Linked DNA regions of Homo sapiens: regions 1, 2, 4 and 5 are each linked to region 3. The links come from fine-mapping of genetic effects on gene expression. A gene starts in region 3. Each other region holds a variant in brackets. All regions are shown on one strand. Distances are between the middles of the regions.

Region 1 (6,062 bases), 60 kb before region 3:
GCTGAAGCTCCCTTTTCTCAAAGCTGCCCACGTAAGCCTCTACCCTTGCCTCATCCTTGGGTCTCTTCCGACAAACTCTCCCTTCCTCACCTCCTCCAAATGACCCACCCTTCCATTCCCATTCTATGATGAACATATGTTAGTATATAGCCATGTTATAAGAAGTTTAAAAAATTGAAAAAAATAAATAGTGGCCAGGTGTGGTGGCTCATGCCTGTAATCCCAGCACTTTGGGAGGCCGAGGCAGGCAGATCATCTGAGGGCAGGAGTTTGAGGCCAGCCTGGCCAACATGGCCAAACCCCATCTCTACTAAAAATACAAAAATTAGCCAGGCATGGTGGCACATGCCTGTATTCCCAGCTACTTGGGAGGCTGAGGCAGGAGAATCGTTTGAACCCAGGAAGTGGAGGTTGCAGTTGCAGTCAGCCGAGATTGCACCACTGCACTCCAGCCTGCGTGACAGAGCTAGACTCATCTCAAAAAAAAGAAAAAAACAAAAAAACCCCCCACAATTGATGAGCTAAAATGCAAGAAGCACCCTGGAAAGCAGGGTACAGAGCAGCAGGAACATGAGGCTCCTTGTGTAGCCTCCAGTCCTAGTTTATCAGTGACACTGCATCAGGACCATCTTTGTGTATGTAACTTACCTCCTTGTGTCCGTCTTTCTTTCTCTCTCTCTTTCTCCCTTCCTGCCTTCCTTCCTTCCTTCCTTCCCTCCTTCCCTCCTTCCCTCCCTCCTTCTCTCCCTCCCTCCCTCCTTCTCTTTCTCTCTTTCTCTTTCTTTCCTTCTCTCTTTCTTTCTTCTTCCTTTTTTTTTTTTTTTTTTTTGAGACGGAGTCTCGCTCTGTTGCCCAGGCTGGAGTGCAGTGGCTCGATCTCAGCTCACCACAACCTCCGCCTCCCAGGTTCAAGCGATTCTCCTGCCTCAACCTCCCAAGTAGCTGGGATTACAGGTGCATGCTACCACGCCCAGCCAATTTTTGTATTTTTAGTAGAGACGGAGTTTCACCACATTGGTCAGGCTGGTCTCGAACTCCTGACCTCGTGATCCGCCCGCCTCACCCTCCCAAAGTGTTGGGATTACAGGCATGAGCCACCTCTCCCTTCCCTTCCCTTTCCCTTCCCTTCCCCTTCCCTTCCCTTCCCCTTCCTTTCCCTTCCCTTCCCTCCCCTCTTTTCCTCTCCTTTCTTTTTCTTTCTCTCCCTTTCTTTCTCTTTCTTTACTTCTTTCTTAACAGGGTCTTACTCCCTCCCACACTGGGATGCAGTGGTGCAGTCACAGCTCACTGCGGCCTCAACCTCTTGGGCTCAGGTGGTCCTCTCAGCCTTCTGGGTAGCTGGGACCATAGGCGTGTGCCACCATGCCCAGCTAATTTTTTCGTATTTTTAGTAGAGATGGGGTTTTGCCATGTTGCCCAGGCTGGTCTCCAACTCCTGGGTTCAAGCCATCTGCCTGTCTCAGCCTCCCAAAGTGCTGGAATTACAGGCGTGAACTGCGCCTGGTCTTATTTTCTCATTTTGAATGATTATTATTAGTTTGATTTTTTAGACACAATGTGAAAAGACACTTTCCATAATTGTTAATATTGCTAATTTGTACAATGGTTAATGATCTTATAAAATAGTTGTATGAAAGCACCAACCACCTTAGAAAGCTGCCAGCATTCATATCTACTTTCCAGACCCTCATCCCTCCTCCCCACTCACCTGCTCTGCTCGCTCATTCATGGCTTTCCTGTGCTCTGCCATTGCTCAGGTGAGTGAGCAGTTCGCCCGGCACATTGACCAGCAGATCCAGGGCAGCCGGATCGGTGGAGCCCAGGAAATGGAGAGGCTGGCACAGCTGCAGCAATGCCTGCAAGCTGTCCTGATTTTCTCCGGCTTGGAGATAGCCACCACTTTTGAGCATTATTACCAGTGAGTGTGGACCTAAGGAGCGGGAGCTGGCGGGAGGCAGGATGATGGTGGCAGAGCCAGCTCATGGGCCTGGAAGTCTGGGATAGAGGCAGGCTGGAGCCTTGGAGTGGGAGGCTGGGCCACACTGGTGCCCACACTGAGGCTTGGCCCGGGCTGCATGCACTGCAGGCACTACATGGCGGACCGTCTCCTGGGCGTGGTCTCGAGCTGGCTGGAGGGGGCCGTGCTGGAGCAGATCGGTCCCTGCTTCCCCAACCGCCTCCCCCAGCAGATGTTGCAGAGCCTGAGCACCTCTAAGGAGCTGCAGCGCCAGTTCCACGTCTACCAGCTCCAGCAGCTGGATCAGGAACTCCT[G/A]AAGCTGGAGGATACAGAGAAGAAAATACAGGTGAGTGCCTTGGAAGGGATAAGCAAATAAGAGGGTAGGGGGAAGAGGGGCGTGGAGCAGACTGGAGGAGGCCATGGCATCTGGGAACCCTGTGCTCCTTCAGGTGGGCCTTGGGGCCAGTGGCAAGGAGCACAAGAGCGAGAAGGAAGAGGAAGCTGGGGCAGCAGCAGTGGTGGATGTGGCGGAGGGAGAGGAGGAAGAGGAGGAGAATGAGGACCTCTACTATGAAGGGGCAATGCCAGAAGTGTCTGTGCTTGTCCTGTCCCGACACTCCTGGCCTGTTGCCTCAATCTGCCACACACTGAACCCCAGAACCTGCCTGCCCTCCTACCTGAGGGGCACTTTGAACAGATACTCCAACTTCTACAACAAGAGTGAGCAGCCAGGCAGAGGGACTGGGGACTGGGGAGAGGGTGGGCTGCTAGGAAAGGACCTGGGGTTGGGGGCAGACCCTGATGTTGGGAGGCTTGATGTAAAAAGAGATAGTCTTTGGCTGGGCACAGTGCTCACGCCTGTAATCCCAGCACTTTGGGAGGCCGAGGCAGGCAGATCACTTGAGGTCAGGAGTTCAAGACCAGCCTTGGCCAACATGGTGAAACCTCGTCTCTGCTAAAAATACAGAAATTAGCCGGGTGTGGTGGTGTGTGCCTGTAGTCCCAGCTACTCGGGAGGCTGAGGCAGGAGAATCACTTCAACCCACAGGCAGATGTTGCAGTGAGCCGAGATCGTGCCACTGCACTCTAGCCTGGGCGACAGCGAGACTCCATCTCAAAAAAAAAAAAAAAAAAAAAAAAGAGTTGGTCTTTTAATTTACATTTTTAATTTTTGTTTTTATAGATTCAGGGAGAGATAGTCTTTAGGGATAAGAATTCCCTAGGCCATGGGAAAAACAGTGGTTTTGAGAACAAAGGGCAGGAGCTTGGTGGCTGGGGGTGGCAGGTGCTGTCAGATACCTGATCCCCAGACCATTGCTTTTTCTGTTCTAAAATAAGACCTGGGAATCTCTTTGTGGGTGACGGGGAGGATGGAGGCAGGAGGCACCTGAGGCCACCAGATATGAGTAGGTGTCTGGCTCTTTTCTGGTCAGTCACCTGTCATCCTAAACTCCCCATCGGGGGCTGATCCCTGAGCTGGCAGCAACACAGGAGGGGGAAGAGGCTCAGACCTGTGGTCAGGGCGCCTCCTAATAGGGGAGACATTGTTTCCTGTCATAATATTCCAGCTTGATAAGAGCCCCAGTCCTTCCTCCCTTCATGGTTTTGTCTCCCTAAAAACACATGGGGCAATCCTCGAAGGCACTGATGAGAACCTGCTTGGCACCAGGCTAGGCATAGGATAGCTCCCAGATCCTGAGGCTTGCCATAGAGGCAGGCCCAGAGAAGGCTGAGATCTGGAAGCTCAGACCAGAAGCCCCAGTGTCCATAAATGCTGGGGTCACACGCCTTGCAGAGATAAACAGAGCGTGACCAGCGTGCACCCTCCCTCCAACACCAACTCCCTCCTTTCACCTGCTCTTTGTCTCCCTCCCCCTTCCTGGTCCAGGTCAGAGCCACCCTGCCCTTGAGCGAGGCTCACAGAGGCGACTGCAGTGGACGTGGCTGGGCTGGGCTGAGCTGCAGTTTGGGAACCAGACCCTGCATGTGTCCACCGTGCAGATGTGGCTACTGCTGTATCTCAACGACCTGAAGGTGGCCCAGCCCCGCTGCACCTCTCTCCTGTCTCCCACTTTGTCCCTTGCCTCTCTTCCCAAAACCTTGACTCCCTCTGCTTCTTCCCTCCATCCTCTTCTCTCCACTCCTTGGGGAGGCCCTGAATGTCTCCCATCTGTTCTCTGAAGGCGGTCTCTGTGGAGAGTCTGCTGGCGTTCTCAGGGCTCTCCGCAGACATGCTCAATCAGGCGATTGGGCCCCTCACCTCTTCAAGAGGCCCCCTGGACCTTCACGAGCAAAAGGATATACCAGGAGGTATGCACTTAGGGCCAGAGGGGCCTCTGCTCTGAGGCAGGGCCAGGCTCCTCGTGGGCTCTCCACTGAGTGAGTGATCAGCATTTATTTCAGGGGTCCTCAAGATTCGAGATGGCAGCAAGGAACCCAGGTCGAGATGGGACATTGTGCGGCTCATCCCACCTCAGACGTACCTGCAAGCTGAGGGTGAAGACGGCCAGAACTTGGAGAAGAGACGGAATCTTCTGAACTGCCTCATCGTCCGAATCCTCAAGGCCCATGGAGATGAGGGGCTGCACATTGACCAGCTTGTCTGTCTGGTAGGCAGGGGTGGGCACAATGGGTGACAGATCTTTGCTGGGGTTGGGGGAGCAGTCTACAGGACAAGGTGGGTGCACGTGTGGTGAGGCACCTGGTTCACTGTGTAGCCTGTAGGAGTGTGAGGAGTGAGGTCGGGATGTACCTCGTGTCCTTGGGGCATCCTGTCCTAGCAGCTGGTGGTTGGAGTGGAAGCTCAAGCAAGGAGGGGTCAGCTGCCTCTAAACTACCGCTTCTCCCTTCCTCCCCCACACCAGGTGCTGGAGGCTTGGCAGAAGGGCCCGTGTCCTCCCAGGGGTTTGGTCAGCAGCCTTGGTAAGGGGTCTGCATGCAGCAGCACTGACGTCCTCTCCTGCATCCTACACCTCCTGGGCAAGGGCACGCTGAGACGCCATGACGACCGGCCCCAGGTGCTGTCCTATGCAGTCCCTGTGACTGTCATGGAGCCTCACACTGAGTCCCTGAACCCAGGCTCCTCAGGCCCCAACCCACCCCTCACCTTCCATACCCTACAGATTCGCTCCCGGGGTGTGCCCTATGCCTCCTGCACTGCCACCCAGAGCTTCTCTACCTTCCGGTAGCCCTAGACTTGGGGTCAGGGGAAGGTAGAGCTGGAGCTTTTACAGAAATAAAACCCAAGAGTTTGATTATATGACGTGTGTGTTTGGCGACTGCTAGAGATTTGAGTGGGGAGGTGGGAGGGTTTTCCTTGCTGGTGGAGAAGGAGCCCTTGGCACTGAGGCTGTCGCATGATATGCCAAGGGTCTTGTTAGGGTGAGGATGGTAGACTGGGAGAAAGGCAGAGGGAGTCAGGTGTGACTTAGCACCCCCTCTAGGCAGAGATTGAGAGGACCAGGCAGGATGATGGCACTCAGCCCCTTCTCAGAGGGTGTGTGGTCAGAAGTGCTTTCATCTGGCAGGCTGGAGATCCAAGCCCAACTTGGCCACTCACCAGATGGTTTGTAACTTGGGCAGATTATCGAGCAGGGTTTAATTCTCCTCGTTTGTGGAACTGGCCCAGTCACTGTGGGACTGCGACAAGTAACAGGTATGGAAGCATTTGACGTGGTGAATGAAGGCATTGCCAGTGAGTCTCTATTTTGGCCACCATTGCCAACAGTGAATGTGGTTCCTTGGTGCCTTCCCTAAGTAAGACTGACATGATGAAGGTGAGGTCACTGACCCCTGTGGCCACTGCAGGCACCCAGCAACCTGAATGTGTATTCCATCTGATGGCATAGGCCCAGAAAGAACTGTTCTAGCACAGTTCTTACTCCCACAAGCTCCTCCGTTTTGCCCCTTTCTTCCCCTCCTCTGCCTCCACCCCTTCTCTGTCCTTGCAGAGCTGCACACGCTGTCATCAAACTCCTACCCCTTGATTCTCAAAACGAGGGATTTGGAAGAACAAGAAAAAAAAAAAGAAAGAAAGAAAAACTCCTACCCCTGCGGGCACGGCGCTATATGCACCTTTAGTCCCAGCTACTCGGGAAGCTGAGGT
Region 2 (6,073 bases), 21 kb before region 3:
CTAAATTAATCCACCTGCCTCGGCCTCCCAAAGTGTTGGGATTACAGGTGTGAGCCACCGTGCCCAGCCTAAAAGCTATCCCTTTTTAAAGGCATAGCTCCCAGACACAGGTGTTACAGCCCCATGAAGTCCATTTTCAGAAGTCTAAATACAGGTATTTGCAGGGCTGTCTGCCCACAGGTACTCCTGGACTGTCCAGGCAGCCCCCTGTTGGGAGAGGAAAGAAGCTAAACCACAGGACAGCCCTTGCCCCCAAACAGAGTCTAGAATAGGACTAGGCAGAGGCCATGTCCAGCTGGGTACCCTCACCACAGGGAAAGGGAAAGGTGACCTCTTGGCCTCATACCTGCCATCTCCCGCTCCTCTCCAGCTCCCATCCCAAACTCTTACTCCTTACCATAATAATAGAAGAACTTGAAATCCTCTGGGGTGGGGGAGGGAAGGAAGACAGAAATGTTATTAATTGCATCCTCTGAATTTTTTATAAAAACAATGATGTGGACTTGTCACCTATCTAGGGATGAGAGAACAGGAGAGGAGCACCGGGTCCAGCCTGTGGGTCCCGTGTATTAGACATGGCAAGGCATCTGGAGGTCTGAGGTCTCCCTTTCTACATATGGCAGATGAGTTGCACCTTGGGGTGGGGGAAGTGGTAGTAAGAGAAAAGCAGGTTGGGGGCCAGCACTTGGTGTGTATCCAGACACTCCTCTGCCTCAGGCCTCCATTTCCCTGCCTTAAGAACAACTAGGCCAGGCACGGTGGCTCACACCTGTAATCCCAACTCTTTGAGAGGCAGAGGCGGGCGGATCACGAGGTCAGGAGTTTGAGAGCAGCCTGGCCAACATGGTGAAACCCTGCCTCTACTAAAGATACAAAAAATTAGCTGGGCGTGGTGGCACGTGCCTGTAATCTCAGCTACTCGGGAGGCTGGGGCAGGAGAATCTCTTGAACTCGGGAGGCAGAGGTTGCAGTGAGCTGAGATCATGCCATTGCACCCCAGCCTGGGTGATAGGGCGAGACTCCGAATCAAAAAAAAAAAAAAAGAACAACCAAACCCTTATCTGTGGAGCTTGGTGCTCAATAACACCTTGGGCCAGACTGCCTGCCTGGGTTCAATCCTGGCTCGCCACTTATTAGCTGAGTAATATCCAGAAAGTCTGCACCTCAGTTTTCTCATCTACAAAATGGGATGACAACCATACCTACCTTATAGCACTATCGTAAGGATAGAGATGAACAGTTCCTCGCACTAAAGAAGCATTTTTTTTTTTTTTGAGACAGAGTCTGGCTCTGTCACGCACTAAAGAAGCATTTTTTTTTTTTTGAGACAGAGTCTGGCTCTGTCACCCGGCTGGAGTGCAGTGGCGCAATCTCAGCTCACTGCAACCTCTGCCTCCCGGGTTCAAGCAATTCTCCTGCCTCAGCCTCCGGAGTAGCTGAGATTACAGGTGCGTGCCACCACGCCCGGCTAATTTTTTGTCGTATTTTTAGTAGAGACGGAATTTCACCATGTTAGCCAGGCTGATCTCGATCTCCTGACCTCATGATCCGCCCGCCTCAGCCTCCCAAAGTGCTGGGATTACAGGTGTGAGCCACCGTGCCCAGCCCTAAAGAAGCATTTTATAAGAGGTACCTTCTACTACCACCACTACTATTACTATTATTTCCCATATCCAGGTTTTAGGAATGCAGCCTAGAATCTCCTTCCTATGCTAGCACAACTCAAATGTTCCGTTGAGTCCATTATCCTCATTTAAAAATGGGGGATCCTGGCCGGGCACAGTGGCTCATGCCTGCAATCCCAGCACTTTGGGAGGCCGAGGCAGGTGGATCACCTGAGGTTGGGAGTTCAAGACCAGCCTGACCAACATGGAGAAACCCCAACTCAACTAAAAATACAGTTAGCCGGGCGAGGTGGCGCATGCCTATAATCCCAGCTACTCGGGAGGCTGAGGCAGGAGAATTGCTTGATCTTGGCAATGAGCTGAGATCATGTCATTGCACTCCACCCTAGGTAACAAGAGTGAAACTCTGTCTCAAAAAAGAAAAAGAAAAGGAAGAAAATCAGGAACCTAGGAAATCACTGCATCTTCCAAGACTCAGTTTAAGTCCCACCTTCTTCCAAAAAGTCTTCTCAGATCTTTCCAGCCCTTGGGTGTCACCCCCTCTTTTTGATACCACTTGTCTCTTCCCTTGGCGCTGTGACTGCTCACCCCCTAGTGACACCTCTTAGTCTCTTCATGTGTCATTCCCCTAACTAGATGGCAAGTCCTTTGAAAGCCAGGACCCTGTTTGTACCCCTCTGGGTGCCCCCAGCACTAACACCTAATAGGAATTCAATGAAGGTTTGGTTGGTTGGTTGACCAGGAGCCAAAGCTCTCAGGTCCTGCCCAGGCTCCTCCCCACAGACTCTTCCTCTCCTGCCCCAACTCAGGAATCCTCAGAACAGGGGGCTATACAGCATTAGGAGCAGAGTCTGAAGGAGAAACATCAGTGATACTAGGGTGAGGGGCTCAGTGCCAACCTGACAACAAGACTCCATCCTTCCAGGTAAGATGCAGACACCCTGTACTTCCACACACCTCACACTGAGGAGGCAGCCAGAGAGGGGCATTCTTCCCAGAAAGGGAAAAGGAAGGCCTCAATGTTTTCTGCTAACAAGAAGGTAGCCAGGCACGGTGGCTCATGCCTGTAATCCTAGCACTTTTGGAGGCCAAGGCGGGTGGATCACTTGAGGTCAGGAGTTCAAGACCAGCCTGACCAACATGGTGAAACCCTGAGTCTACTAAAAATGCAAAAAAACAATTAGCTGGGTGTGGTGGTGCACGCCTGTAGCCCCAGCTACTCAGGAGGCTGAGATGGGAGAATTGCTTGAACCCAGGAGGCAGAGGATGCAGTGAGCCAAAATCACACTACTGCACTGCAGCTTGGGATTCAGAGCAAGACTCTATCTCAAAAAAAAAAAAAAAAAAAGGTGGCCAGACGTGGTGGCTCACGCCTGTAATCCCAGCACTTTGGCAGGCCAAGGTGGCTAGATCAGGAGGTCAGGAGTTCGAGACCAGCCTGGCCAACATGGTGAAACCCCGTCTCTACTAAAAATACAAAAATTAGCTGGGCGTGGTGGCGGGCGCCTGTAATCCCAGCTATTCCGGAGGCTGAGGCAGGAGAATCGCTTGAACCTGGGAGGCGGAGGTTGCAGTGAGCCGAG[C/A]TCACGCCACTGCACTCTAGCATGGGCGACAGAGCAAGACTCCATCTCAAAAAAAAAGAGGTGGCAGGACTAGATCAGTGGTTTCCCAACGATTATTCCGGTAAGGTTTAGAGAGAACAGGGGGTCTTATGCTCCACCAATGGCCAGGCATGGTGGCTTATGCCTGCAATCCCAGCTCTTTGGGAGGCCGAGGCGGGCAGATCACCTGAGGTCAGGAGACCAGCCTGGCCAACATAGCAAAACCCTATCTCTACTAAAAATACAAAAAATTAGCCAGGCGTGATGGTGGGGGCCTGTAATCCGAGCTACTCAGGAGGCTGAGGTGGGAGAATCACTTGAACCTGGGAGACAGAGGTTGCAGTGAGCCGAAATCGTGCCACTGCAATCCAGCCTGGGCAACAGAATAAGACTCCATCTCAGAAAAAAACAAAACAAAACAAATGAAACAAAATAAAAACCACCCAATGAGCTGATATCTAAGGTCTTTTCTACACTAGCATTGTGTTATTGAAGGCTAGAGTGGCTGGAGAGCAGCTGAATGGGCTTAGTCTGCCCTGCCCCCTACCCCACTGAGCTGCCCTGGTTTATAAGGACCATTGGCTCCCAAGATCCAGACACAAGAAGCATCTGAGAGACAGCTGTTTCTGCCAGCGAAGCCCCTGGCTGCCAAGCCCCAATGAGGTATCCGCTGTCTATTCACCCTTCACTAGGAAACATGCATGTCAGAGGGAGGTGGGGGATATGTCAACTACTCATGGGCATTCAACCATTTCTCTTAAAAGCCCCAGCCACTAACTTGTGCATTCACCTGGGTTGGGGGTAGAAGGCAAGTGAGTCCCCTGAGAAGCTTCTGCAGCCATCAAAGCAGGGGTGGACACTGACCAAAGGCAACTTGGCCAATCTGTCCTCTACTCGCTACTTTGTCCTGCCCAGTTTCACTTCGGGACTCTATTTATTTATTTATTTTGAGACAGGGTCTCACTCTGCCACCCAGGCTGAAGTGCAGTGGTGCAATCTCAGCTCACTGCAACCTCTGCCTCCCAGGCTCAAACGATTCGCCTGCCTGAGCCTCCTGAGTAGCTGGGATTACAGGCGTGCACCACTAGGCCTGGCTAATTTTTGTATTTTCAGTAGAGACGGGGTTTCACCATGTTGGCCAGGCTGGTCTCGAACTCCTGACCTCAAGTGATCTGCCTGCCTCAGCCTCCCAAAGTGCTGGGATTACAGGCGTGAGCCACCGTGCCTGGCCTACTTTTCTGTAGTTTTTGTAGAGACAGGGTTTCACCATGTTGCCCAGGCTGGTCTCAAACTCTGGAGCTCAAGCAATCCACCCGCCTCAGCCTCCCAAAGTGCTGGGATTACAGGTGTGAGCCACCATACCTGGCCCTCACTTCTGGGACTCCATAGAGGCCATCTCTTCTGCCTGAAGTACTACTACTTTCACTTCCAAACTCTCAACAGGATCCATACTCCAAGAAGCCTTCCTAGATTCAGGCCTCCAGCAATCAAGTGGCACTGTGAATTTCCACACGACACTCATACTCAGAAAATTCCAACTAAACGTGCCTACTCTGAACCTATCCTGGTCCAGCCTATTCCGAACACGGCCATCATTAATAATTAAACCCACGCTGGGCACAGTGGCTCATGCCTGTAATCCCAGAACTTTGGGAGGCCGAGGCAGGCAGATCACGAGATCAGGAGTTTGAGACCAGCCTGACCAACATGGTGAAACCCTATCTTTACTAAAAATACAAAAATTAGCTGGGCGTGGTGGCACGCACCTGTATTCCCAGCTACTCAAGAGGCTGAGGCAGGAACATTGCTTGAACCCGGGAGGCAGAGGTTGCAGTGAGCCAGCATCACACCACTGCACTCCAGCCCGGGTGACAGAGTGAGACTCCGTCTCAAAAAAAAAAAAAAAAAAAAAAAAAAAAAAAAAAATATATATATATATATATATATATATATATATATATATATATAAATAAAACCCAAATATTCAAATATAAATAAAGAGATAGGGGCCTGGCATGGCGGCTCACGTCTGTAACCCCAGCACTTTGGGAGGCCAAGGCAGCAGATCACTTGAGAACAGTTCGAGACCAGCCTGGACAATATGGCAAAACCCCGTCTCTACTAAAAATACAGAAGTTGGCTGGGCATGGTGGCTCACCCCTATAATCCCAGCAGTTTGGGAGGCTGAGGTGGGCGGATCGCCTGAGGTCAGGAGTTGGAGACCAGCCTAACCAACATGGTGAAACCCTGTCTCTACTAAAAATACAAAATTAGCTTTTAGTACAAAATGTACTTTTAGTACAAAAATTAGCAGGGCATGGTGGCGGGCGCCTGTAATCTCAGCTACTTGGGAGGTTGAGGCAGGAGAATTGCTTGAACCCGGGAGGTAGATATTGCAGTGAGCTGAGATCGCGCCATTGTACTCCAGCCTGGGCAACAAGAGCGAAACTCCATCTCAAAAAATAAAATAAAATAAAAATAAAAATAAAAACGGCCAGGCACAGTGGCCCACGCCTGTAATCCCAGCACTTTGGGAGGCTGAGGTGGGCAGATCACCTGAGGTCAGGAGTTCAAGACAAGCCTGACCAGCATGGAGAAACCCCATCTCTACTAAAAATACAAAATTAGCCAGATGTGGTGGTGCATGCCTGTAATACCAGCTACTCAGGAGGCTGAGGGAGGAAAATCACTTCAGTCCGGGAGGCGGAGGTTGCAGTGAGCTGAGATCACGCCATTGCACTCCAGCCTGGGAAACAACAGCGAAACTCCGTCTCAAAAAATAAATAAATAAAAATAAATAAAATAAATAAAAATACAAAATTTAGCCGGGCGTGGTAGCGGGCGCCT
Region 3 (6,073 bases):
ATACTACACATTGGGTACAGTATACACTGCTTGGGTGATGGCTGCATCAAAATCTCATAAATCACCACTAAAGAACTTATTCATGTACAAAAAATAAATTTTTAAAATTCTATATAAAATAAAATATTTAGTCTTAAAAAAAAAAAAGGTCAGGCGCAGTGGCTCACGCCTGTAATCCCAGCACTTTGGGAGACTGAGGAGGGCGGATCACCTGAGGTCAGGAGTTCAGGACCAGCCTGGCCAACATGGCAAAACCCCGTCTCTACAAAAATACAAAAATTAGCCAGGCATGACGGTGGGTGCCTGTAATCCCAGCTACTCAGGAGGCTGAGGCAGGATAATCCATTGAACCCGGGAGGTGGAGTTTGCAGTGAGCCGAGATCGCACCATTGCATTCCAGCCTGGGCGACAGGGCAAGACTCCATCTGAAAAAAAAAAAAAAAAACACAAAACCTGTGTCCCTTACCCAGGTACCCAGGAGAGCAATGTTACAAGACAGTGGCCGTGGGGATGGAGAAGAGAGGATGGAGCATGAAAATGTGTAGAATCAACAGGATATGGTGATTCATTGTATTGTGGGGGGGACGGTAACGGAAAGGGAAGAGTTGAGGATGATTTCTGGAAGTGATCAGAGTTGTAGGAGGACAACTGGTGTCATAATGGCAAAGGAAATAAAAGACAATTGGTCAGTAGTGTCAGAGAAAGAACAGCATCATCTTGATTCTGCAATTAGAAGATTATGGGTGATTTTTTCAGAGAGTGGAAGACCGTTTTTAGTGAGTGGAAGAGTGAGCATCAAGAGGTGAGGAAGTGAAGATGGCAAATGTAGGGTCCTGGCGATCTTACAGAAGTAGTATTTGGCTTTCGGTGACTAATGACGATTTCAGGGTAACACAAAGTGGACTACATGCCCGCTGTTACCTGCTGGGAGAAAAGCTTGGGAGAAAAGGACATTTATTTGTGGGTGGGTATTTGTGTCTGTATGAGTGCTGATCCAGGCAAGATAACTGATGTTTTTACCCATCTCCAAGGCCTCAAGGAGCACTATAGTCCTGAGGCCTAGAGCTTGCCTGCTACTGAGGAAAGCAGGCATATCCTCTTTAGGCCCATGTACCATCTATCTAGCCCTTGGTTCCTCTGGGACATAGGGGACCAAGAAACATATAGTAGCACTACCAAATGGGAACTTTCATCCATGTGAATCTAGGTACCTAGAACATTCTTTATTTAGTTTTTTTTTCTTTTAATTTTATATATTTTAAGAGACAAGGTCTTGCTCTGTCACCCACTTGGAGTGCAGTGGCACAATCATAGCCTCAAATTCCTGGGTTCAAGTGATCCTTCTGCCTCAGCCTCCCCATAGCTGGGATTATAGACACAAGCCATGGTTCCTGGTTAGTACATTCTTGCATGCTATTTTATTTATTTTTTTCTATTATTTATTTTTTTGAGACGGAATCTCACTCTGTCACCCAGGCTGGAGTGCAGTGGCGCAGTCTCGGCTCACTGCAAGCTCTGTCTCCCGGCTTCACGCCATTCTCCTGCCTCAGCCTCCCGAGTAGCTGGGACTACAGGCACACACCACCATACCCAGCTAATTTTTGTATTTTTAGTAGAGACGGGGTTTCACCATGTTGGCCAGGCTGGTCTCAAACTCCTGGCCTCAAGCAGTCCACCCACTTGGCCTCCCAAAGTGCTGGGATTACAGCCATGAGCCACTGCGCCCAGCCCCTTATAATATGCAAATCTAATAGTTTTCATATATTTGTCTTTCAAATTTTCAGGAATGTATAATGTACAAAATAGAAGACTGCCTCAAGAAGAAAGGAGAGATGGAGAAAGCTGAGCAGTAGCTGAAAGAGAATGTAAGGTCTAGAAAATGGAGATTGGCACCATCCAATTCATTTATTGTAAGTGAAAATAATTGTTAATAATTGGAAATGCAGTGGGACATGATGGCTTATGCCTGTAGTCCCAGCACTTTGGGAGGCTGAGGCCTGAGGATCTCTTCAGACCAGGAGTTTGAGACCAGCCTAGGCAACACAGAGAAACTCTGTCTCTACAAAAAATAAAAAATTAGTCCAGGCGCAGTGGCTCATGCCTGTAATCCCAGCACTTTGGGAGGCGTAAGCAGGTGGCTCACTTGAAGCCAGGAGTTCGAGACCAGCCTGACCAACAGGGTGAAACCCCGTCTCTACTGAAAATACAACATTAGCTGGGTGTGGTGGCACACACCTGTAATCTCAGCTACTTGGGAGGCTGGGGCAGGAGATTCTTTGAACCTGGGAAGCGGAGATTGCAGTGAGCTGAGATCGTGCCATTGCACTCTGGCCTGGGCAACAAGACCGAAACTCCGTCTCAAAAAAAAAATTGGCTGGGTATGGTGGCGTGTGCCTGTGGTCCCGGCTACAGTTACTCGGGAGGCTGAGGTGGGAGATCACTTGAGCCTGGGACGGTAGAAGCTGCAATGAATGGGGATCGTGCCACTGTACTCCAACCTGGGTGACAGAGTAGGACCCTGTTGCCATAAAAAAGGAAATGTGGCCTACCACTAGCTGAGTGTCTTGTACAGAACAGTGGAGGTGAAGAGAAGGATGGAATCTAAATAACAGCACACGCAGGAAGTCGACTGTTGGTGTTATGCTGACAGAAGCCTTGAACTCCTTTCCTTCTGCCTGCTCTGCTGCCTGCCCCGCTCTAGGATAGAAAGTGAATGGGTTTCCGATCTGCAAGGATTTGGGGGGGGGGGGTGAAAGAAAAGCTGTTTTGTCTTCAACTTAAGTTTGGTGGGAGTAAAACAAACAGAACAATGAACAGGGCAAGAAGTCCTGGAACATGGGTTTTGTGCCAGATGTGCTGGAACATGTGTGGTGGCACCAAGCACTCCAGGGCTGTATGAATCACATCTAGTAATTCACTCAGCAGCCACTATATACCTATAAGCAAGTGTGAGACAGTTTTCTAATCCTGCTACTCCCTCCTGCAACCTTTCCTGCAACCCTCAAACCTCAGTGCTCACAGTTCCACAGGGGAAGCTGCAGGAGCTCCGCAGAGGAGCGGACTCCTTCCGAAACATTTCACCTAGAGCTCCCAGTACTGGGCCCAGTCATCCCGAGCATGCTGACTGTTCATTTATCAGTCAATAAACTGTTACGTTCATGCCACGGGGAAAAATAGTTAAGAGAACATTACTTCCGTAGAAGGCAAAGATAAATCCCTTAAGCACAAGTTCAAATGGCGCATGGGTAAACGCTACGCAACCGCAGCGATGAAGGTTACTGCCTATCGAGGCACGACGCAGATCAATCCGAGGCGCAGCTAACCCCCTCAGAGCAAGTTCGCGGCACCCGACCCCCCTCCCCTTTTCCTCTGGCCTCCCCTGACGGAAGCGGAAGCGGCCCTCGCGCACACTAGTCGTCTGGCTCTCTGGCTCCGGAAGCTGCGCTCCTTCACCCTCCTCGTTGGTGTCCTGTCACCATGGCGCTGGCTGTCTTGCGGGTCCTGGAGCCCTTTCCGACCGAGACACCCCCGTTGGCAGTGCTGCTGCCACCCGGGGGCCCGTGGCCGGCGGCGGAGCTGGGCCTGGTGCTGGCCCTGAGGCCTGCAGGGGAGAGCCCGGCAGGGCCGGCGCTGCTGGTGGCAGCCCTGGAGGGGCCGGACGCGGGCACCGAAGAGCAGGGTCCCGGGCCGCCGCAGCTACTGGTTAGCCGCGCGCTGCTGCGGCTCCTGGCACTGGGCTCCGGGGCCTGGGTGCGGGCGCGGGCGGTGCGGCGGCCCCCGGCGCTAGGTTGGGCACTGCTTGGCACCTCGCTGGGGCCTGGGCTCGGACCGCGAGTCGGGCCGCTGCTGGTGAGGCGCGGAGAGACCCTCCCAGTGCCCGGACCGCGGGTGCTGGAGACGCGGCCGGCGTTGCAAGGGCTGCTGGGCCCAGGGACTCGGCTGGCTGTGACTGAGCTCCGCGGGCGGGCCAGACTGTGTCCAGAGTCTGGGGACAGCAGTCGGCCCCCACCCCCGCCCGTGGTGTCCTCCTTTGCGGTTTCTGGCACAGTGCGGCGACTCCAGGGAGTTCTGGGAGGGACTGGAGATTCACTAGGGGTGAGCCGGAGCTGTCTCCGTGGCCTTGGCCTCTTCCAGGGCGAATGGGTGTGGGTGGCCCAGGCCAGAGAGTCATCGAACACTTCACAGCCGCACTTGGCTAGGGTGCAGGTCCTAGAACCTCGCTGGGACCTCTCTGATAGACTGGGACCCGGCTCTGGACCGCTGGGAGAGCCCCTCGCTGACGGACTGGCGCTTGTCCCTGCCACTTTGGCTTTTAATCTTGGCTGTGACCCCCTGGAAATGGGAGAGCTCAGAATTCAGGTAGGATAAAGGACTGGGGTCAGGAGTGCTTCCTCTTTCTTATACCCTCTTCTCTGTCTTAGGTAAATTGGAAGATTTAGGACTCGTGCCCCATATCATCCCGGACTTTGAACATAATGTTTCTAGCCGGGCGCGGTGACTCACGCCTGTAATCCCAGCACTTTGGGAGGCCGAGGCGAGCGGATCACTTGGGGTCGGGAGTTCGAGACCAGCCTGACCAACATGGAGAAACCCCGTCTCTACTAAAAAAATGTAAAATTAGCCGGGCGTGGTGGTGCATGCCTCTAATCCCAGCTACTTGGGAGGCTGAAGCAGGAGAATCGCTTGAACCTGGGAGGCGGAGGTTGCGGTGAGCCAAGATCGCGCCATTGGACTCCAGCCTGGGCGATAAGAGTGAAACTCTGTCTCAAAAAAAAAAAAAAAAAAGCATAATGTTTCTTAGCCTCATTTATCTATTTTCTTTTTCTTTCTTTCCTTTTTTTTTTTTTTTTTTTTTTTTTGAGATGGGGTCTTGCTCTGTCACCCAGGCTGGAATGTGGTGATGCGATCTCGGCTTACTGCAACCTCCGCCTCCCAGGTTCAAGCGATTCTCCTGTCTCAGCCTCCTACTACTGGCTCGCGCCACGACGCCCGGCTAATTTTTGTAATTTTTAGTAGAGACGGGGTTTCACCGTATTGGTCAGGCTGGTCTCGAACTCCTGACCTCAGGTGATCCACCCAAAGTGTTGGGATTACAGGCGTGAGCCACCTCACCCGGCCTATTGATCCATATTCTGTAATCAAAATATCATAAGCCTCCATAATGTAGTGGGGCATACAAAAGGCTTTCATCCATTCAGGTGAAAGGTGAAGTTTGGGTGTGGTGGTGCATGCCTGTAATCCCAGCTACTTGGGAGGCTGAGGCAGGAGAATTGTTTGAACCTGGGAGGTGGAGGTTGCAGTGAGCCCAGATCACACCACTGCACTCCAGCCTGGACGACAGAGCGAAATTCTGTGTAAAAAAAAAAAAAAAAAAAAGTGAGGTTTCAGATGTGTATGTTAATCTACTCAATCTAATTAGTTTATTGAATTGCTACAATGTATTCAGTATTGTGCTTTATAATATGGAGGATGATGTCTCTGTGCTTTTGCTCATTCTTATCCTTGACTTCAAATTGTTTCCTATTATTCTAGCCTCATCTGTTAAAATCCTACCCTCCTTTCCCTCAAGAGCCATCTAAAGATGACACCTTTATCACAAAGCCTTTCATGATCTCACAGCCACGAATTTAGAACTTCCTCCTATAGCATTTTCTATCTTTTTTATGGCATTTATTTTATTCTATCTTGTTATGATTACATAATCTGTTTAATCCCCAATTATATATTGTAAATACCTTGAAGGAAAGGAGTCTTTATTATCTTTGGTGCCTGGTGTTTAGTTTTAATATTTTATTAAATACATCCAAGGAAAGTTTTTGGTTTCTGCCTTTACTTCAAGAAGAAAGTTGTAGAACAGATAATAGTTGTTCCATTTCCATGGGTTACTGAGTAAAGACTCACCAGTTCGCCATAACAGACATAAGAGTGACAAAAAAATAAACCTTCATTGTGTAAAAAAAAAAAAGGCCAGGCGCAGTGGCTCATGCCTGTAATCCCAGCACTTTGGGAGGCTGAGCCAGGCAGATCACTTGAGGTCAGGAGTTCGAGACCAGCCTGGCCTACATGGTGAAAC
Region 4 (6,073 bases), 40 kb after region 3:
CCAGCACTTTGGGAGGCCGAGATGGGAGGATTGCTTGAGTCCAGGAGTTTGAGACCAGCCTGGCCAACATGTGGAGACCCTGTTGCTACAAATTTTTTTTTTTTTTTGGTTGCGGGGGATGGAGTCTCACTCTGTCACCCAGGCTGGAGTGCAGTGGTGCAATCTCGGCTCACTGCAACCTCCGCCTCTTGGTTTCAAGCAATTGTCCTGCCTCAGCCTCCCAAATAAGAGGCTGAAACCACCCCAGGCCCAAAAAATAAATTAAAAATTAAAAAAATTATTGGCCGGGTACAGTGGCTCATACCTATAATCCTAGCACTCTGAGAGGCCGAGGTGGGTGAATCATCTGAGGTGAGGAGTTCGAGACCAGCCTGGCCATCATGGTGAAACCCCGTCTCTATTAAAAATACAAAAATTAGCCAGACGTGGTTGTGTGTGGCTGTAATCCCAGCTACTCGGGAGGCTGAAGCAGGATAATCACTTGAACCCAGGAGGAAGAGGTTGCAGTGAGACAAGATTGTGCCAGTGCACTCCAGCCTGGGTGACAGAGTGAGACTCTTGCAAACAAATAAAAAAGTATTTAAATAATTTTTTCTTTTTTTAGACACATGGTCTCACTATGTTGCCTAGGCTAGTCTCGAACTCCTGGGTTCAAGCGATCCTCCAGCCTTGGTCTCCCAAAGTGCTAGGATTACAGGTGTGAGCCTCCACACCTGGTATACAAAAAATAAGATGTTTAAATTAGCCAGGTACAGTGGTGCATACCTATGGTCCCAACTATTCAGGAGGATCACTTGAGCCTGAGAGGTTGAGGCCTGCAGTGAGTCATGATCACGCCACTGCACTCCAGCCTGGGTGACAAAGGGAGATCCTGTTCCAAAAAAGAAAGGTAGGGGAAAGGGTTAGGCATGGTAGTTCCTGCCTGTAATCCCAGCACTTTGGGAGGCCAAGGCAGGTGGATCACTTGAGGTCAGGAGTTCGAGAACAGCCTGGCCAACATGGGGAAACCCCGTCTCTACTGAAAATACAAAAATTAGCTGGGTGTGGTGGCGGTTGCCTGTAATCCCAGCTACTTGGGAGGCTGAAGCAGAGAATCACTTGAACCCAGGAGGCGGAGGTTGCAGTGAGCTGAGATTGTGACACTGCACTCCAGCCTGGGCAACAGAGTGAGACTCTGTCTCAAAAAAAAAAAAAAAAAGACTCAAAACAAAACAAAAAACAAAAAAAAAATCAATGAAGCTGTGGGGACAGAAGTAAGCCAGGCCTTGAAGTGCTGTTAGTGATAGAATGGGGGAATCAGAGGGTGGCCACCAAATCCTAGACAGTTCAGGGGGCAGGAAACACATCCCTGCCCTGGGTACCAGCCCCTCCACCTCACCCCCAGCCATTTTCTATGCTCAGAACAAAGTCCAGGACAAGACCTGCATCTAGACTGTAATCTCACTGCTCACCAGCTCCTTTAACAGGGGGAACATCAGTCCTGGAGATGCAGAGGTGGAGGCTGGACCAAGACAGTATCATTTTCCCAGGACCTGGCGTCATCCTCAACAGCTTAAGGAGAGACAGATTCCATTCTGTTCCACTCTCTATGGCCTTGGCTGCCCTAACCTGGTAGAGGGGGAGAGGCTGGGACCAGGCTATGAGGGGGCCCCTCACTCCCAGTTCAGCCCCCAGAGCCGCTGCAATGGACGCAGGGAGGCTTCAGCAGTGTATCCCTCCTACCCACTGGGCCTAGCCTGGAAGTGTGAGGTAGAGTTGCAGTGTGGGTGCTCACGGGAGATCTGGTGCGGGCACAGCTCCCCCAGGACTTGCTGCCATTCTTTCCTTCCAATAAGCCACAGCTGCTTCCTATTCGCCTTTTAGGAATCTTGGTGGTGGTTAGGCCAGGCGCAGTGGCTCCCACCTGTAATCCCAACACTTTGGGAAGCCGAGGCAGATGGATCATGAGGTCAGGAGTTCAAAACTATCCTGGCCAAGATGGTGAAACCCCGTCTCTACTACAAATACAAAAAAATTAGCTGGGCGTGGTGGCAGGTGCCTGTAATCCCAGCTACTCGGGAGGCTAAGGCAGAGAATTGCTTGAACCCGGGAGGCAGACGATGCAGTGAGCCAAGATCACACCACTGCACTCCAGCCTGGGCAACAGAGTGAGATTCCGCCTCAAAAAAACAAAACAAAACAAAACAAAACAAAAAGAATCTTGGTGGTGGTGACAGGTTAAGGCCAAGAAACTAAACCAGTTCGATACAACTCACACTGTCAGTGCCAGGGGTTGGGGGAAGAGGCCCTGGCAGCTGTGGAGAGTGGAAGTACCATGGATTTGTAATCTGAACGCCAGTGTCTGCGTCCCAGCTATACCACTCCTTAACAGCAGGACCTTGACTCCAAGGTCACCTGACTCCAAGCATATCACTTGACTCTAGCCTGTTTTCTCCTCTACACAATGAGGTTAACAGCACACCTCACAAGAGTGTGGTAATAGTAAAAGTTAAAGCATACAATTTGAATACATACAATTGTCATCACTACTGTACCAATTGCCCCGATCCCTGCCTTCAGGACAAACTGGGAGGTGCCTGAGCTTCCCCACCCCTTCTCCCTAGAGGCCAGCCTCTCTGCTCCTCCCTTGGCCCTGAGGAACATGGTGTGACCAGATGGTGTTGGGAACCGGGTGTCCTCCCAACTGCACTCCAGGTACAACAGCTAGGAACCTCAGAGTGATCAAGTGTGGTCATCAGAAAACAAGGTTCAGGACCAACAGTCAAGGCCAGGTGGAAGTAGGAACAGGGGC[G/A]GGAGCTGGCCAGGTAAACACTGCATTTTACACAACAAATGGGAGGCCTTGGGAAGAGGAGCAGCAGGAGAGAGGGAGGGAGGGAACGGCAGCCAGGTGTCCAGGACACGAGGGAGCAGCGTAAGGTCAGTGCACTGCCCTGGGCCTCATCCTATGCCCATGCCTCCCCTCACCCCAAGACAACCCTGGGCCTTCCCAGCACTTGCTGCTCCCGAGAGTGGGTGGGTTTTAGCCTTCCCCTCCTCAGCCCCACGGGCTGGAAGGCGAGGGGCAGGAAAGAACAAGAGGCTCCAGGGCACCTCTGAGGGCTGCAGAGGACTCAGAAATCAGAACCAGAACATTTTTACTCTTTGGGCTCTGGGAAGGGCCAGGCAGAGTGCAAGGTGTCCACAGGAGGGGTAAGCAGAGAGGAGCTACAGGGGGCTGCAGTCCTAGTACCCTGTTGGGGAGGACTGAGGGATGGTGAGTTTGGTCTCCGGAGGGGGCTCCAGTCCTGGTGCCCAGTTCTGACACCTGCCCCTCCTGAGTTCACACTGGAGTCCTTGCAGTCCTGAAACCACAAGGCCTGCCTGAACCCTGGGTCAGGAGAGAAACACTTGGGGAGGGGAAAGGACGGCGTGGGCTACCCATGACGGCTCTGAGTTCTTCCTGGGGCTTGTGTCTTTCCTTGGCAGAAGAGGGCACAGCCAAGGCAAGGAGGGGCTGAAGGCTGCGGGGCCATCCCGGCCTGCCAGAGCCATGCCCCTGACTCCTCAGCTTCAAAATCAGGGGTCTCAGGACAGAGGATGCTGGGTGGGCTCAGAGCTCATCAGGGGGGCTGTGTGTGAGAGGGGATGCCTTCTGGATGCCCTCATCCTCCTCGGGGCTGGGGTCTCCCTCAAGGCCACCCAGCTCCTTCCTTTGTTTGCTGCTGCTACTCCTGCCGCCTGCTGCCTTGGCCCTGCTGCTCTTCTTCTTGGACTTCTTCCCTCCCAGGGCAGCTGTGTCTCCCTTCTTGCCGGACCACTGCTCTGCCAGGCAACCTAGGGTGTGGAGGAGAGAGACCCTCAACAGAAGTGCCTCAGGGCTGGGGTGCTGGGCAAGGAGCACTGAGCAGGGAGCCGTGGGAGTAGCAACTGGGACTGTGCTTGACATCAGCCTCCCTGCCTCCTGCCTCTCGCTGTGGCCACCAGGCCCCTCTGGGGGCATCTGACTTGTCTGCCCATCATTCTGCACCTGGTTTCAGTGACTCTTACTTCACCATGTCTTGCCAATCAAGCCTTTCAAGGGCAGAGATCCTACAATGCCCTCTGGTGCCCTCTGTTTCTCCTCCTACCCACCTCCCCCAAGGGAGAGCAAACAAATCATCCAGAGCCAGCCTGCCCTTGCTTCCCCAAACTCACTGGTGTCTTTTCCCTTCAGCACGTGGTTGGCGCAGAGGAATTCAGTCAGGTCTTCCTCCTGGTGGTTCCTGTACCAGTCCTCGATCACCTCCTCAAACTCTTCCACCAGCACATCACACTGTTAATCATAATACCTCATATTGGCAAAGCCCCAGCACCTGACTCGCTCCTAGAGGAGCTCAGCTAAGCCTCGCAACCCACTGCAAGGTAGGCAGTGGCAGCGGTTCACCTAAGGAAACTGAGGCCAGAGAGGTGAAATGACCTGACCAAAGCCACCCCGGCCTGGGTGGACTTCCTCAGAGCAGACCCAATCCCCACCAGCCCCTCACTGGGCACAGCAACCCTTCCAAGGGCTGAAGGGCCTGTACCTGCTTCTTGAGGTCAGCCACCTCTGCAGAAGTCTCGTTCCACAGCTCATAGGGGATGTCCATCACCACCTTGACCCCTTTGTGTACCAGGTTGTGTAATGTCTCAAAGGTCTCTGACATGCCCTGGAAGAAGCGACCAGATATGGCAGGCGGAGCTCCCTTCTCTCCCTCCCACCCTCGTCTCCCAGTGGTGGCTAAGAACCCAGCTATAAGACCAATGCTCAACGCCCTCTAAGGATCCTCATCCTTTTTTTTTTGAGAAGGAGTCTCACTCTGTCGCCCAGGTTGGAGCGTCTCAGCTCACTGCAACCTCTGCCTCCCAGGTTCAAGCGATTTTCCTGCTTCAGCCTCCCAAGCAGCTGGGACTACAAAGGCGTGCCACCATACCCGGCTAATTTTTGTAGAGTTGGGGTTTTGTCATGTTGGTCAGGCTGGTCTCGAACTCCTAGCATCAAGTTTTCCACTCACCTCAGCCTCCCAAAGTGCTGAGATTACAGGCGTGAGCCACCGCACCTGGCCTCATCCTTGACCTGACCTTCCTCTTCCCTCTTTTAGGCCTGCTTCCCACAACCCCTGCACATATACCCCCTGATCTGCCTCTGCACACCTCATCGCTTCAAAAAGACCTGCGGCTGCCCTCAGGCCCTTTGGCTTTATGCTTCTTTTCCAGGAAATAGGTTTGTCTTAGCTCTTTCCCCTCACTATGGCTGGAAACACTCCCATATCATCCAGACCTGCTGTTCCGTTCTTCCTGGGTTGTGTCTTTCCTCAGTGGGAAAAAGGCATAGCTGAGGCAGGTAGACCCTTTATTCTGTAAAAACTATCTCTGCTAGCTGCCTAGGTCTTATCCCCAGAGAAAACATACTATCCATTTCCTCTATTTTCCCAGAGATAACTCATACAAATACCAATATCTAAATATATCCTCCCCCCGCCTTTTTACACAAGCAGTGGTATAGCATACACACTATTTTGCACTTGCCCTTTTTACTTATACCTTGAAGGGCTGGGTGCAGTGGCTCATGCCTGTAATCCCAGCACTTTGAGAGGCCAAGGTGGGCTGATCACCTGAGGTCAGGAGTTCGAGACCCCCTGGCCAGCATGGTGAAACCCCGTTTCTACTAAAAAACACAAAAATTAGTCGGGCGTGGTGGTCGGTGCCTGTAATCCCAGCTACTCAGGAGGCTGAGGTGGGAGAATAGCTTCAATCTGGAAGGTGGAGGTTGCAATGAACTGAGATCGCACCACTGCGCTCCAGCTTGGGCAACAGAGTGTGAGACTCTGTCTCCAAAACAAACAAACACACAAAAACCTTGAAAATCAATTGAATTCAGTTCCTAAAGAGCCTCCCCATGCTTCGTTTCCAGCCGCATACTAGTCCACCAAACGGCTGGATCAACGTATTTAATCCCCTATTGGTAGAGTTAGATTGTTTCTCATTTTTTTCCTGCTATGAAAAATAATTCTTAAACACTTTTTATTAAAGCAAACACAGATTTATTACTGAGTGCAAAATTCATACAAATTTCTGC
Region 5 (6,073 bases), 28 kb after region 3:
CTAAGAGAAGTTACTATTTATCCCTAATTAGATGGGGAGGAAAGTCTTTGAAGAGGAACCTCTACTTTTTATAATAGCGATTCTCCTACCTCAGCCTCCCAAGTATACAGGTGCTCGCCACCACATCAGGCTAATTTTTATATTTTTAGTAGAGACGGGGTTTCACCATGTTGGACAAGCTGCTTTCTAACTCCTGATCTCAGGTGATCCGCCCGCCTCAGCCTCCCAAAGTGCTGGGATCACAGGCGTGAGCCACTGCGCCTGACCGAGGATGGCATCTTTGATGTAAATAAGCTTTTCCCAAATTCACAGATTAAGACTTCTACTGTCATAAAACTCTTATCTTTCAATATTTGTTCTTGCTTATGCCTCTATGAACAATAAAAGTGGAAAAGGCATCTGTTATGTGCACTAATGGGATGTACTTTTATTTGTGAAGGAGTTTGCAGCCAACCTTATATATGGATAACTTTATACTTTAATAGATAAAAAATGAAGGCCCAGTGCAGGTAAAAAACTTTAATGGGGCCAGGCACGGTGGCTTATGCCTGTAATCCCAGCACTTTGGGAGGCCGAGGCAGGTGGATCACCTGAAGTCAGGAGGTTGAGACCAGTCTAGCCAATGTGGTGAAACCCCATCTCTACTAAAAAAATATATATATATATATACATAAAAATTAGCTGGGCATGGTGGTGCACCTGTAATCCCAGCTACTCGGGAGGCTGAGGCATGAGAATCGCTTGAACCCGGGAGGCAGAGGTTGCAGTGAGCCAAGATGGTGCCATTGCACTCTAGCCTGGGCAACAAAAGCGAAACTTCGTCTCAAAAAAAAAAAAGTATCCCTCATGATGGGTTCTATAGCAAATTCTACTGTAAAGGCTACAGTTATACAATAGACTTTAAATTCTCTTGTGAAAGTTAAGATAGAATTGGCTAAACAGAGAAGTATCTGTGCAGCTGCTGGCACTTGTGGCCTACGGAGAAATACATCACATGAAGATTATAGAAATATAGTGGTAGGGGATTAACAAAGAGACTGCTTAGTCAAATGAGTAAACTTTTTTTTTTTTTTGAGACGGAGTTTTGCTCTTGTTGCCCAGGCTGGAGTGCAATGGCACGATCTCGGCTCACCGCAACCTCTGCCTCCCGGGTTCAAGCGATTCTCCTGCCTCAGCCTCCCGAGTAGCTGGGACTACAGGCATGCACCACCATGCCTGGCTAATTTTGTGTTTTTAGTAGAGACGGGGTTTCACCATGTTGGTCAGGCTGGTCTTGAACTCCCGACCTCAGGTGATCTGCCCATCTCGGCCTCCCAAAGTGCTGGGATTACAGACATGAGCCACCACGCCCGGCCATGAGTAAACTCTTTATCTAGTTCATTCTTTGATCTATGTGATTTTAGGTGGTTTGGTTTATGGGGAACCTGGGTAAGGAGCATACTCCAAACTCTTGGTATCATCCTCCCGATAGTCATAATAATAGTCTCCCTGGTGCGCTCTATTCTCTCAAAGGTTTTAAATGCTTGCGTGCAGCCATCTCTAGAATGTCAAATGGTCTCTCTTCAACTGGAATAACAGGAGCTAAAAAAATGTGCAACCATAAGGACACTATAAGCTATAAATGATGTGCTGAGATAGGAAACCCAAAATGATGGTAACTGAGAGTGGCGCTAAGTCCCTAAGGTTTGGTCACACTCTCACTTAAATGACAGCCTAACCAAAAAGGGTAATTTTTTAAACAAAATTATGGAAGGCCATTGTTTTGGACTAGGCTCATGCACTAGGCCTCAACAAACCAAACCAAAATGGAGTCGCTCATGCTAGGACTTTAAGGAAACACATAGATTCTAAAACAGACCAAGTTTTTTTTCTCCTGCAAATCTCTATGACAAACCTTTCTTTTTTTTTTTTTCTGAGACGGAGTCTCACTCCCTCGCCCCCAGACTGGAGTGCAGTGGCTCAATCTCAGCTTATTGCAACCTCCACCTCCCAGGTTCAAGCAACATTCCTGCCTCAGCCTCCTGAGTAGCTAGGATTACAGGCATGCACCACCCCGCCCGGCTAATTTTTTTGTATTTAGTAGAGACAGGGTTTCACTATGTTGGCCAGGCTGATCCTGAACTCCTGACCTCGTGATCTGCCTGCCTCGGCCTCCCAAAGTGCTGGGATTACAGACGTAAGCCACTGCGCCTGGTCAATATAACAAACATTTCTAACAGCATAGGTATCCACCCCCTGCAGTTCCCATTAAATGTTTTAACCAAATTCATTTCCTCTTGCCTAGAGACCATCAAGCTTCAGCTGATCATGCAACAAAGCTTCCAGCCAGTTCCAGGTGAAGACATCACCCCTGGCCATCAAAAAGCTACCCTGCCTCCACTAGACAGAGCAGGGTGAGAGTTCCATGATCCCTAATAGGTGGGGACCATCCCCCAAGCCAGCATGAAGCAGTTACAGAAAAAAGACCATCTGTCCCTCTGCCTCCCATAAAGATTTATGGGGATCACATCTCAGGGGGCAGATGAGGCAGGAAAATAGGGTCTGGAGGCAGGTAACATAAGGCCAATTCACACTTCATCTATAACAGGAAATATCCTCTCCTTAGGGCATACATCATTAATAACTTTGCAATTGTAACTTTACTTCATCTTCTTCATTTACATAGGGCATTCCCCAAGTAGAGGGTATTTAAACTCACAAACATTTTTAACAGGGCCTTTGAGCCCCTATGCTCATTCTCGCTCCCACACTGTGGAGTGTACTTTCATTGTCTTTTTTTTTTTTTTTTTTTTTGGGATGGAGTCTCGCTCTGTCGCCCAGGCTGGAGTGCAGTGGCGCAATCTTGGCTCACTGCAACCTCCACCTCCTGGGTTCACACCATTCTGCCTCAGTCTCCCAAG[T/C]AGCTGGGACTACAGGTGCCCACCACCACGCCTGGCTAATTTTTTTGTATTTTTAGTAGAGATGGGGTTTCACCGTGTTAGCCAGGATGGTCTCAATCTCCTGATCTTGTGATCGGCCCGCCTCAGCCTCCCAAAGTGCTGGGATTACAGGCGTGAGCCACCGCGCCCGGCTCATTTTCAATAAAACCCTTCATTCCTTCCTTGTTTGTGCATTTTGTCCAATTGTTCGTTCAAGATGCCAAGAACCTGGACACCCTCCACCATTAACACATGGACAAAGTCCAGGGCCGGGAATGGGGGTGCTTGGTGTCCTTGCTATTCTTTATTTTTTTTTGAGATGGAGTTTCGCTCTTGTTGCCCAGGCTGGAGTGCAATGGCACGATCTTGGCTCACTGCAAACTCCACCTCCTGGGTTCAGGCGATTCTCCTGCCTCAGCCTCCCAAGTAGCTGGGATTACAGGCATGCACCACCACACCCAGCTAATTTTTTTGTATCTGATCCTACAGATGCATCTTTGGCAACAGGTTTAGAAAGCCTGGATTGGGGCCGGGCATGGTGGCTTATGCCTGTAATCCCAGCATTTTGGGAGGCTGAGGCGGACGGATCACCTGAGGTCAGGAGTTTGAGACCAGCCTGGCCAACATGGTGAAACATCATCTCTACTAAAAAATACAAAAATTAGCTGGGCGTGGTAGCAGGCACCTGTAATCCTAGCTACTCAGAAGGCTAAGGCAGGGAGATTTGCTTGAACCTGGGAAGCAGAGGTTGCAGTGAGCTGAGATTGTGCCACCGCACTCCAGCCTAGGTGACAGAGTGAGACTTTGTCTAAAAAAAAAAAAAAAAAGCCTGAATTGGAGAATTATAAGTAAATCCACTCTTTATTTTACAGAATATTCTGGGGAAAATTTACTCCACTACCCTTAGATTTTTTTTTTTTTTAATCTCATGTTAATTATCTTGTCTGGGCATGGTGGCTCATACCTGTAATCCCAGCACTTTGGGAGGCCGAGGGGGGCAGATCACTTGAGGTCAAGAGTTCCAGACCACCCTGGCCAACATGGCAAAGCCCTATCTCTACTAAAAATACAAAAAAATTAGCCGGGCGTGGTGGCACGCGGCTGTAGTCCCAGCTACTTGGGAGGGTGTGGCACAAGAATCACTTGAACCGAGGCGGCAGAGGTTGCAGTGAGCTGAGATCAAGCCACTGCACTGCAGCCTGGGTGACAGAGTAAGATTCCGTCAAGTGATTCTCCTGCCTCAGCCTCCTAAGTAGCTGGGATTACAGGCATGCGCCAACACACCCAGCTAATTTTTTTGTATTTTCAGTAGAGATGGCGTTTCACCATGTTGGCCAGGCTGGTCTCGAACTCCTGACCTCGTGATCCGCCTGCCTCGCTTCCCAAAGTGCTAGGATTACAGGCTTGAGCCACCTTGCCCGGCCTTAAAAATGCATGCTTGGTCAGGAGCGGTGGCTGAGACCTGTAATCCCAGCACTTTTGGGGGCCGAGGTGGGCAGATCACTTGAGGTCAGGAGTTGGAGACCAGCCTGGCCAACATGGTGAAACCCTGTCTCTATTGAAAAGACAAAAATTAGCTGGGCGTGGTGGCAGGCGCCTGTAATCCCAACTACTTGGGAGGCTGAGGCAGGAGAATCGCTTGAACCCAGGAGGCAGAGGCTGCAGTGAGCCGAGATTGTGCCACTGTACTCCAGCCTGGATGACTGAGGGAGACTCTGCCTCAAATAAAAAAAAAAAAAGAAAAAGAAAAAGAAAAAGAAAAAAAGTCTGGAGAATGAAGAGTGATTGGAATAATAACCAAGATGATACGGGAATAATTTCTTTGTCACTGTCTACAAATAGATTGGCTATATATACAATATTTGAAATGTTAAGTGGCTTATGGCAGTTTATTATTTTTCCCTTTATTATTACTTTCTTTTCCATTTGCTTTGTGTGGGAAAGGAATGCTGAAGGAGGTAGTAGGGTCACTCCTTTTTAAAATTTAATTTTTTTTTTTTTAAAACAGGGTCTTGCTTTGTCGCCTAGGCTGGAACACAGTGGTGTGATCATAGCTCACTGCAGCCTCGAACTTGCAGGCTCAAGCGATCTTCCCACCTCAGCCTCTTGAGTAGTTGCCATTATGGGGGTGCGCCACCATGCCTGGCTAATTTTTTTTTTTTGGTATGTCTGTGTCACTCAAGCTTGTCTCCAACTCCTGGGCTCAAGTGATCCTCTTGCCTCAGCCTCCCAAAGTGCTGGGATTACAGGCATAAACCACCTCACCCGGCGTGTTTGAACTCTTCTTTACATATTATTCGTTGATATTTCATTAGGTAGAATATTGTATCTAATTATATCTATTATATCTTCTTTAATTATTGCCAAAATATACCAAATAATTGCAATCCTTCATCTACAAATTGTCCATGTCCTGCCCACTAAAATATATTAAAACTGCTTTTTATTTTACTTAATTCGTCTCTATAAATTTTATTTTATTTTTGTAGAGACAGTCTCACTTTGTTATCCAGGCTGGTCTCAAACTCCTGGGCTCAAGCAATCCACCTGCCTCGGTTTCCCAAAGTACTGGGATTACAGGCATGACCACCATGCCTGGCCATCTCTCTGTAAATTTTAGATGCCCTGGGCCATGGAAAAGATCACAGAATATAAATCAATTTACTGTTTGACTTCACTGAAAATAAGAATAGGTCCAGCCTGGCCAACATGGTGAAATCCTGTCTCTACTGAAAATACAAAAATTAGCCGGGTGTGGTGGCACACACCTGTAATCAGCTACTCAGGAAGCTGAGGCAGGAGAATCACTTGAACCTGGAAGGTGGAGGTTGCAGTGAGCCAAGATCGCGCCACTGCACTTCCCTGGGCAACAGAGTGAGACTCCATCTCAAAAAAAGAAAAAAGAAAAGAAAAGAAGAACAGGTGATATTTTAAATGTGGGACACATTATTTGGAATTGGCTGAAAAGACTAAATTCTTCATTCCTAAATGTGTGACATGTTTGCAAAAAGACTTCATCTTGGGAATGTGGCTGTAACTGGACAAACTCCAAGTCCTATTTGAGGACACATTAAAATCCTGCAATTGTGAATTATGTAGATACAATAACTGCGAATGGGAGACATCCTGGTTGTTTTGGTGTTTTTTATTTTTAT

Evidence for each region.
Region 1: its variant is fine-mapped to the expression of PEX6 in unexposed skin (GTEx, PIP 0.96).
Region 2: its variant is fine-mapped to the expression of PEX6 in whole blood (TOPMed, PIP 0.92).
Region 4: its variant is fine-mapped to the expression of PEX6 in pancreas (GTEx, PIP above 0.99).
Region 5: its variant is fine-mapped to the expression of PEX6 in whole blood (TOPMed, PIP above 0.99).

What each region holds. Positions count from the first base shown.
Region 1 is chr6:43,036,771-43,042,832 of GRCh38, reverse strand. It overlaps CUL7 (cullin 7), which reads left to right. Exons shown (of 26, transcript NM_014780.5): 19 at 1-31; 20 at 1,758-1,918; 21 at 2,087-2,303; 22 at 2,407-2,677; 23 at 3,846-3,991; 24 at 4,141-4,267; 25 at 4,361-4,566; 26 at 4,822-5,216. The coding sequence ends at 5,145. It overlaps LOC124901318 (a long non-coding RNA gene), which reads right to left and starts at 1,797. Exons shown (of 2, transcript XR_007059581.1): 1 at 1,709-1,797. The variant G/A (reference allele first, on the strand shown) is at 2,273.
Region 2 is chr6:42,997,137-43,003,209 of GRCh38, reverse strand. All of the region lies in intron 2 of PPP2R5D (protein phosphatase 2 regulatory subunit B'delta), which reads right to left. Among named protein-coding and RNA genes, the nearest start is that of MEA1, 14 kb to the left of the region's middle. The variant C/A (reference allele first, on the strand shown) is at 3,209.
Region 3 is chr6:42,976,555-42,982,627 of GRCh38, reverse strand. It overlaps PEX6 (peroxisomal biogenesis factor 6), which reads left to right and starts at 3,447. Exons shown (of 17, transcript NM_000287.4): 1 at 3,447-4,359. The coding sequence starts at 3,478. LOC124900215 (a long non-coding RNA gene) reads left to right here. Exons shown (of 2, transcript XR_007059580.1): 2 at 1,785-2,086. RefSeq lists silencers at 1,188-1,406, 2,645-2,841, 3,496-3,875 and enhancers at 3,036-3,085, 3,246-4,187.
Region 4 is chr6:42,936,308-42,942,380 of GRCh38, reverse strand. It overlaps CNPY3 (canopy FGF signaling regulator 3), which reads right to left. Exons shown (of 6, transcript NM_006586.5): 4 at 4,542-4,664; 5 at 4,174-4,291; 6 at 3,087-3,813. The coding sequence ends at 3,590. All of the region lies in intron 1 of CNPY3-GNMT (CNPY3-GNMT readthrough), which reads right to left. It overlaps LINC02976 (long intergenic non-protein coding RNA 2976), which reads right to left and starts at 1,888. Exons shown (of 5, transcript NR_186646.1): 1 at 1,775-1,888; 2 at 1,452-1,608; 3 at 766-871. RefSeq lists an enhancer at 3,275-3,777. The variant G/A (reference allele first, on the strand shown) is at 2,792.
Region 5 is chr6:42,948,333-42,954,405 of GRCh38, reverse strand. The region is part of intron 1 of CNPY3-GNMT (CNPY3-GNMT readthrough); the gene reads right to left. LINC02976 (long intergenic non-protein coding RNA 2976) reads right to left here. Exons shown (of 5, transcript NR_186646.1): 5 at 6,046-6,073. Among named protein-coding and RNA genes, the nearest start is that of GNMT, 9.4 kb to the left of the region's middle. The variant T/C (reference allele first, on the strand shown) is at 2,901.